Homo sapiens: one gene and its partner. The protein of the gene in region 1 interacts with the protein of each later gene in a pairwise test. Each region holds a gene or a part of one and is shown on either strand. Other genes may lie near its edges. The genes, in order: CPEB1 and SLC16A7.

The links.
Region 2: the proteins of CPEB1 (region 1) and SLC16A7 interact in a two-hybrid assay, tested with the Homo sapiens proteins (one large-scale study listed by BioGRID and IntAct).

Annotation. Positions count from the first base shown.
Region 1 is NC_000015.10:82,644,349-82,648,891, reverse strand, and holds the start of CPEB1 (cytoplasmic polyadenylation element-binding protein 1), read left to right. Parts: upstream 1-1,528; 5' UTR 1,529-1,755; intron 1,756-4,543.
Region 2 is NC_000012.12:59,707,276-59,711,085, forward strand, and holds part of SLC16A7 (monocarboxylate transporter 2), read left to right. Parts: intron 1-3,810. UniProt on the Homo sapiens protein: Proton-coupled monocarboxylate symporter. Catalyzes the rapid transport across the plasma membrane of monocarboxylates such as L-lactate, pyruvate and ketone bodies, acetoacetate, beta-hydroxybutyrate and acetate.

The DNA of each region.
Region 1 (4,543 bases):
AAACAGACCCGACAACTGCCAACCCCTTTTACAATTCTCTAATAGTTTTCCTGCTGTCTGCAGAATAAAGGCCCCTTACAAACCGGGCCCAGGCTTCCCTCCGGCGGTATCAGGTCGCATCATCCTCAGTCCTGGTCAGAGGGAGCCGCTCGGTGCCGTCCTCCCTCTCTGCCTTTGCTTGATCTTCCGCCTGGAATGCCATCTCCGACTCTGCGTTTGCCTGGGGTTTCCGGTCCGCCCCTGCGCCAGGTGCCCTAGGACGCCTGCCCTGGAGCCCTCGCCCTATCCCTTGCCCTATTTCTGTGAAACTTTCTATCTCAGTGTGTCAGGAGCGCCGGAAGCGGTTTCTCCGGAGAACTCCGGTCCAAAGAGGACCAGTGATGTCTTTGGAACTTTCTGGAACTTCCTGACTCTCGCGGCCCCCTCTGCAGCGCACGGAGCAGAGGGTCTAAAGTGAGTGCGCCTCCTGGAGCCCAGGGGCTACAGTTCCGACCAAGGATGCCAGGGCAGGCTCTCGCCCTGGAGAGATCACTGGAAGAGAAGGAGCGCGGACACGAGGCTCTACTGACGAAGCGATCGCCGCCGCTCGCAGGGGCTTGTAAATCGTGCCCTCTTTCGTTAAGAGGGAAACTGAGGCCCAGGGCAGACAGTGACTCGGCAAGGGTCACTTAGGTGATGGCGCGCTCAGGCTTAGGTCTCTGGCCCCCCAGGGGGCAGCTGTGGCTAGCAGCGGCGGCAGTCCCCGCCGGGTTCCGGGTGGGCGGCGGAGCCCTCCTCGGCTCGGCCTGCTAGGAGGGGCGGGGCGCGAGGGGGCGGAGGCGAGGGCCCGGGCGGGGCCGACACAGGTGCTCCGCATCCGGCCGGGGGGCGGCTCCGAGGAGCGGCTCGTAGGAGCTTCATAAGCTGCCGGGGTGCGGGGCTGCGCGCGGCCCGCTGCAAAAATAGTGCCCACGTGCGTGCGCGTCTCTCGCCCGCCGGCTGGCCGGTCAGCCCGTCAGCCCCGCAGGGCCACACCGGCCCCATGGCGTTCCCGCTGGTAAGAGCCACCCGCCGCTCGCCTGGGCGGGGCCGCGTCCCGGCCGCAGTAGCTAACGGTCCGCGCGCAGCCGGGTCCGGCGCCGCGGTACCCCCATCCCCCGCCCCGTGCGGGCGAGTCCCGGGCGGGGCGCGGTCACGTGCCCGCGGGCGTGGGGCCTCGTGGAGGGGTGGAGGGCGAGGGGGGCAGGGAGCCTCCTCGTGACTCAGGGCCTTTGGGCTTAAAGGCGCCGCAGCCCTGCGGGGGCGGCCGGTGGGGCCTCCGAGCCGCACTGCGGCCTCCAGGCGGCCTCGAGCGTCTGTCCAGACGGGAGCTGACCGGACATAAAGGAGCACCGGCGCCCGGAACGTTTCTTTCTCACACTGCCGTCGCACGGGAGACCCGAAGCCGCTGGCGCTGGAAGCTCACGCCCCCTGCGGGTCTCTTTAGCACCCGGCGCGCGGTGGGGGCGCCCGGGCGGGACGGGGCGGGGCTGCTGACGGCGTAGACCCCGTGCTCTGTGGAGAGCCCCACGACGGCGGCGGTCGCGGCACCTTTAAGGTGGAGGGCTCAAGCCCCTCGTGCGGCTTCCCAATCCTGGGCAGGTCACGTGGCTTCACACCTTCGCTTGGCGCCGGAGAGGGAGTCTCGGGGGCGGGGCTGGCCAGGTAGTGTGGCGCGAGGGCGGAAGACTGGCGGGGCTTCGTGCCCGGGAGACCCGCCGGGCTGGCGGCATTGAGGTGGGTCCTGGTCATGGGCGGGAGAGGGTTAGGCTTGCAGGCCGCGGAGGTGGCGTAGGCGGGGAGCGACCCGAGCCCACTCTGGGCTGTGCTGTTCGGACCCTCAGCCTGGCGAGTGGGTGCATGTGGCCTGGCGTTCTGGTCATTCTCCTCAGTGCCGGACGAGGCCAGGTGCCCAGACTCAGGGGCGGCCTCAGGTTTGGCGGAGCAGCGGCTGGGGCCCTGGACGAGTCGCCCCCCGTGATGACGAGCGGTTGGGCGGGCCTGTGCCCGCCTGGAGTCACCTGAGTGTGGGGGGACTCACCCACAAAGGGGTCCTCACCTTGGGGTGTCCCACCCGGCGTCATTCCCCGAGGCTTTTTCATGTCATGGGTTCCTCAGCGGTCGAGTCGACCGAGGCTTTGCTGCCTCATTCCTAGAGGACCCAGGGAGACCAGAAGGCTCTGTGAGCGGCCCCGCGTTGACCCCGTGACCGAGAAAAGCCAGGCAGACGCCTGGGCTCTTGGGCGCTTTCGTGGGCGCGCGCTTATTTTTCGGGGGCACTTTGCTCCCTGCAGCCCTGGCCCCTTGCACCGTGCTCTCAGCTGGGGGAAGAGAGTCGGGAGCCGAATTCGCTCTTAGAAGCCGGGGTGCCTCCCGCCAGGCCCGCCTGGGAGGAGGCCGCGTCTCTCCTCCCCCGCCCCGCGCCTGCAGCCCCGGCCCTGACTGACGCCGCATTTCTCTGGCAACCGCTTCCCTTGGTCTCCCTGGCTACCGCCCAGCCTCCCCGCGCTCTCTCCTGGCACCTGAGTCAACTACTGGGCTGTGTCGTTGGTGGGGAAGAGGGGCAAGTGGGTGGGGTTCCTATTCTGGAAGGCACAGGTGCACCGCCCGCCTCTTGGCTGCCCCTCAGGTGACGGTGCGGTCCCTTGCTAGCGGGAAGAGTGTCTGCTAAGGACAGTTTGCACCCTGAGGCTCATGTTCCCTTTGAGTCTAGGGACACATGCTGGGTTAAAAAATAAAAATAAATTCAAACAGGACCCAACCTTGGAAACCTCAAGTTGGTGATTGTTTTCCTGGTTGGTTTTTTGCATAGTTAGAAAAGCTTGTGGAGCTCAATGGGGCTGCTGGCTGTCGGAAAACCCTGGGGACGGTGTTTTGGGGACTCATCACTGGTCTTTTATTTGTCCCCATTGAGCTGGCTTGGAGCTGAACTGTATTCCCAGAGCACGTTGCTGTAGGAGTTTGGCTTTTTATTTTTTAATATTTATTTATTTATTTATTTATTTTGAGAGGGAGTCTTGCCCTGTCACCCAGGCTGGAATGCAGTCTCGCGATCTTGGCTCACTGCAGCCTCCGCCTCCCGGGTTCAAGCGATTCTCCTGCCTCAGCCTCCTGTGTAGCTAGGATTACAAGCTCGTGCCACCACGCGCGGCTGATTTTTGTATTTTTAGTAGAGATGGGGTTTCAGCATGTTAGCCAGGATGGTCTCGAACTCCTGACCTCGTGATCCGCCCACCTCGGCCTCCCAAAGGGCTGGAATTACAGGCGTGAGCCCCCTTGCCTGGCTGAGTTTCGCTTTTTAAATTTTTTGTCACGGCGATTTAAACTTTGGGTGGCCTGGTAGTGCCTGCTCAGTTTATAGAAGTAGGATTTGGAAGTTGACTACTCTGTGTGTAAGTCAACCTTTGTAATAAAAAAGTACGGCCCGGCCCCATGACTCACGCCTTTAATCCCAGCACTTTGGGAGGCCCAGGCGGGCAGATCACCTGAGGTCAGAAGTTCAAGACCAGCCTGGCCAACAAGGTGAATTCCCGTCTCTCCTAAAAATACAAAAATTAGCCGGGCATGGTGGTGGGCGCCTATAATCGAAGCTACTTGGGAGGCTGAGGCAGGAGAATCGCTTAAACCCAGGAAGTGGAAGTTGCAGTGAGCCGAGATCAGCCACTGCACTCCAGCCTGAACGACAGAGCGAGACTTCGTCTCAAAAAACAAAACAAAACTTGGTTTCCCCCCTCCGAACCGTTTGTCTTGTAAACAACTCCCTGGTCTAGGCTCCCATGTGTGGGAGGGAGGTTGTGCCAGCCTGTGCAGCACATCAGAGGTTGGAGAGCTGATGCCTGTGGTGAATAATCATGGAACCGTTTGCAGTTTGGGTTAGGCCATAGGCGTTTGATACAGGAATGGTTCTATGTGCTTTTCTTTCGCTGTAGTGCACAAACCAGTGCCCATGAAGTAAAAAGTGGAGGAGGAAGATAAAGTAGTAAGACTCCAGGCTCAGCACCAAACTTAACTAGTGACCAAATGATAATAGCTGCCTTAATAAGCATTTTCACTGAGCACAACCATTAGTTTTATTCTTAGTCTTTAAAATGGGTTGCAAACTCAAACCCTATAGGGGCCAGAGGTAACATAAATGAGCAAAGGAGGAGGAAAGAAAGGTAATGGCTTCTGAACTACAGAGTATGTGCCTCTTTGAAAGGAGCAGCCACTAGCTGATTGTTGCTCAGCAAAAATGTGGGCCCAGAGTCGGTGGATCTTTGACTTGCTTCTAAACTGGCTATCTCTATTTTGATGGATCTCCTGACTTTTAAATGTAGCATTAAAAAAATTTTAAACACTATAGACCAAATGTAACATGTCTTTAATGTTGGATTCAACCTGAAGGCTAGTTTGGAATCTGTCTTAAAACATCCGTTTTGGATTTCCCCGCTGTTTTGCAGAAAAGGAAACAGGCTTTAGAAATCAAGTCACAAGGCTGTTAAGTGATGGAATTGTGTGAACCTAGGTCCTTCTGGTGCCGTAGCCC
Region 2 (3,810 bases), on another chromosome or scaffold:
CTAGCCAGTCCTAGTCAGAGCCTGGTATCTCAATATTCTCCATTGAACAAAAGAAGCATGTGTTTATAGACTTGCCTATGACAGCCCTCCACCCTCTGGCTGGATCTAAAAGGAACATTAGAATGAACAATGGCATAATTAACTTTCTCAAACCACTAAATCTCAATATGAAATTATAAAAAGTAAATATACTATATTTACTACAAATAAATGTTTTTATTTTATTCATACTTATTTTTCTATTTTAATATATATGGTATAATTTTTTAAAAGCACAAAAGAACTCTTCTGAAATTCATGAAGAAAATGGTAGTTTGTTAAAATAGTTATAAATTTGGAAAAAGCTGCCTTAAAATTTTTAGGGTGATAGATGAATAAAATATGTCTAAGTTAAATATTAACAGGGATTTTATATATGCTTGTTTTGTGAAAGCAGTGCTAGATACATACAAATTCTTGGTATTTAGTAATTGATGAAGGCAATATCTAGGTGAGATCCAAGTAAGTACCTGGAATATTGCCTAAAGTCCTCCATTATCGGGGCTAAAACATGCAAATGTTTCATCTCTGGCCATAGAGAAAAGTCAGGAATTGCAGAAATTCTGCTCACCTTTGGTCCTTCTTTTAAAACTGGAAACACAATTCTAGGCCCATTGTCTAGTGGATGAAAATGCTTTTACCTGCCATGTCCACTGTTGAATATAGATCTTACACGTTTACATAGTTTGTTGGAAATAACATCTATGTCTTATCCTGATAATTAGTTTCTAATCTTTTAACCAAAAATAATTGGCACATTTAAAATTATAATCTAATGTGGAAATAATTTTCTTAATGTGGATGCAGATAATTTTTTTTCAGAAACATAGTAACTATTTAGAACAAAAAGTCTGATATAGTCAGTTAATCTAAGACACAGGTATTAGTCCTGTTACTCACATTGCAGTCTTTCTTCAACTGTGGTCTACAGAATGCTTAGCTTCTGAGTCATGAGTCTTGTTAAAAATGAAGTCCTAGGCCTTATCCCAAATCCCCTTTTATCAGGATTTCTGTTGTTAGAGTTCAGAAACTTGCATTTTAACAAGCATCTCTGAAAACAACTTCACTTTATATACAACACAGGGGTTCACTGTTGTAGAAGAAAATCACTATTTGATTTTAAAATACTTAAATTTTCTTACACTATGTGAAATATATTTATAGGAGCCTTTTAGGTTGATGATTATAAAAAAAATTTGGAGAGCAAAGGTGAAAAGACATAGTTTACTGTGAAGTATAATGAGTCTCTCTAGCAAGTAGCTGAAATATTCTGTTCAACACAATGCTAATTGCATTAGCCTAGAGAACACCTAAGATCTGACACATTCATTAGGGCTTAGCAGTCAACCTATTAATCACTACTGTGGGGTCACTGAGTAAGATGGAGCATGTTCAGAGGCCTGGCCTGTGATGTCAGGACTGGAGTCTCTTGTAGTAATTAGTTGGTATCTGGGCTTTGGTAGCAAGGTATTATCTTCCCTTCTGATGTCTGAATTAAAAATGAAACTAATGAAAGGTTCGCAGGAAGGATGGAAAAGAATGCAAATTATGTTTATACCTTACTTCATCCTTAGAATAATGGCATCACATTACAGCAATCCATCTGGATGTCCATATGTTCTCCTGGAGATCTAGCAAATTTTAGCAAATAGGTCAAACAGTGTGGTCACCCCATTAATAAAGCACTAAGTAGAGGTAGAAAACATAATTTAAACTTTCTACACTGTTTAGAAGGACATAGGGTTTTATTTTGTAAATAGTGATTACATAGGATTATCTTTTAGTGCAATATTTGTTTTTGTATTCTATTGAATGATAATCTATATATGGTTACCTCTACAGTTACTGGCGACAGATTTGGACTGCCAGTTTCTGTGAGTACTTTATATGACTTTTCTGGTAAAAATCTATTCTGACTTGGAAGAATCAGCCATTCTGGAGAGAAGAATTGGCTTTGTCTCCATGGTAACTTATTTTTCTGTTTTATGTGAATAGTGACGGCCAATTGTGCTAAAGTAAGGGTGATAGTTTTGTGATGAACTACTTTACATGGGGATTGAACATTAGAACACTGAGCTTATTTTACTGGAGGCCGAGAAGCAAAAGGCTTTAACATAGCAGGTTGGTGGTCATAATGTACAATATGTATTTTTCTATTCTCTTAAAATTTTAAATAAGCTCAATATATTATTCTACATTGTGCCCTAATATTTTGCAGAATGAGGGAGGCTATTAAAATAATTCATGCTGTGCAATATCTTAGCAGCAATAAAAAAAGAAAGTCATTCCATTCCTGTGTTTGAGATAGGTAGAGCTTTCATCTTAGATTTATAAAAAGCAAAAAGTACCAGGTACACTTTGACAGCCCTGTGCAAGTAGGCTGTGGACTTTTTATATCTATGCCATGTTAGACTCTTTTTTTCATCTGTAGGCATAAATATTACTAAAGCTTTCTATGAAATATGGTACAGTGTGGCAGAAACTATTATGCTCACCGTGCATCCATGCACTCCTCTATATTTCCCAGCTTTCCTCCCCTTAGGCTGAGGCCAAGTGACTAGTTCTGACCAATTAAATATAAGCGGAAGGACATCTGTCCCTCTGGACACCTCCTGGACAAGGTGGTTTGATCTGGCATGCATCTTCCCTTTCTCTACAGTTATATAGACTATACTGATCATTACAAACATGAGGGCTTGGTTTATTGTGTAACAACAATATAAGTTATATAAATTATTACATGGGATGAGAACACACTATGAGATAGCCTTAGTCAATTTAGCTTATATTATATCATGAAATGTACAAGTGCTACTCTATCAGATCTCTGTTAGAGAAGAGGTATCCTTTGGTAGCCTAGAGAACACCTAAGATCTGACACATTCATTAGGGCTTAGCAGTCAACCTATTAATCACTACTGTGGGGTCACTGAGTAAGACAGAGCGTGTTCAGAGCATGTTCATTTTTCTCAAATGAAAAAGAAGTTGTGAGTGGATATTATCATTGCCAGTCTTCATGGAATAAAAGTGAGAGGCAAGGACTTCAAAACACAAAGTAGGAATGGAATCATGGCCCTGGAGCTTTCTATGATGAAATCTGTGTGTCTCTTCCAAAACAGGGATGAAAGGGGACAGAGGTCAACAACAGATTGGAAGTGTGCTTAGAGCCTTTGAAATTATTCCAGGACACACTTTCCCTACAGAGGGCTGATAATCTAGTACAAATAATATCAGATAGTTACTAAATGTTATTTTCAACAGAAATTCTAAGAACCTTTATTGAAATCTTTTCTGACTGATATATGTGCCTCAGACAGTGAACCTTTCACTTACTGATGTATAAAAAGAACCTATTTATTAATTTATGACCTGACAAGAATAAGACTATCTTTCCTGATTTTTGGCTTAAAAATTTTCAAAAATATGTTATTATATCATTACTCACTTTATGCAGATGTGTTTTTGTTGTAAATGACAGAAACCTGATACAGATACCCTAAAGCCTAAAGAGAAATGTTCATGTATACAAATCAGAGGAGAAGCAGAGACACCAATGTCTTCCAGCTCAACTAGCACCAGTAATTCTGTTTGTCCAGCATGTTACACTCTCTCTTCTCTCTTCTGTTTCTTCCAGAGGGCAGCTTTGTTTATTTATGTTGATATTCTTCCCCTGGCACAAGGAAGATGTCTACCAACACTTCAGCCTCATATTTCAGCTCAAATTTGACACTAGGAAGACTGCCACTATTCCCTAAGTTATACTTTGACAAA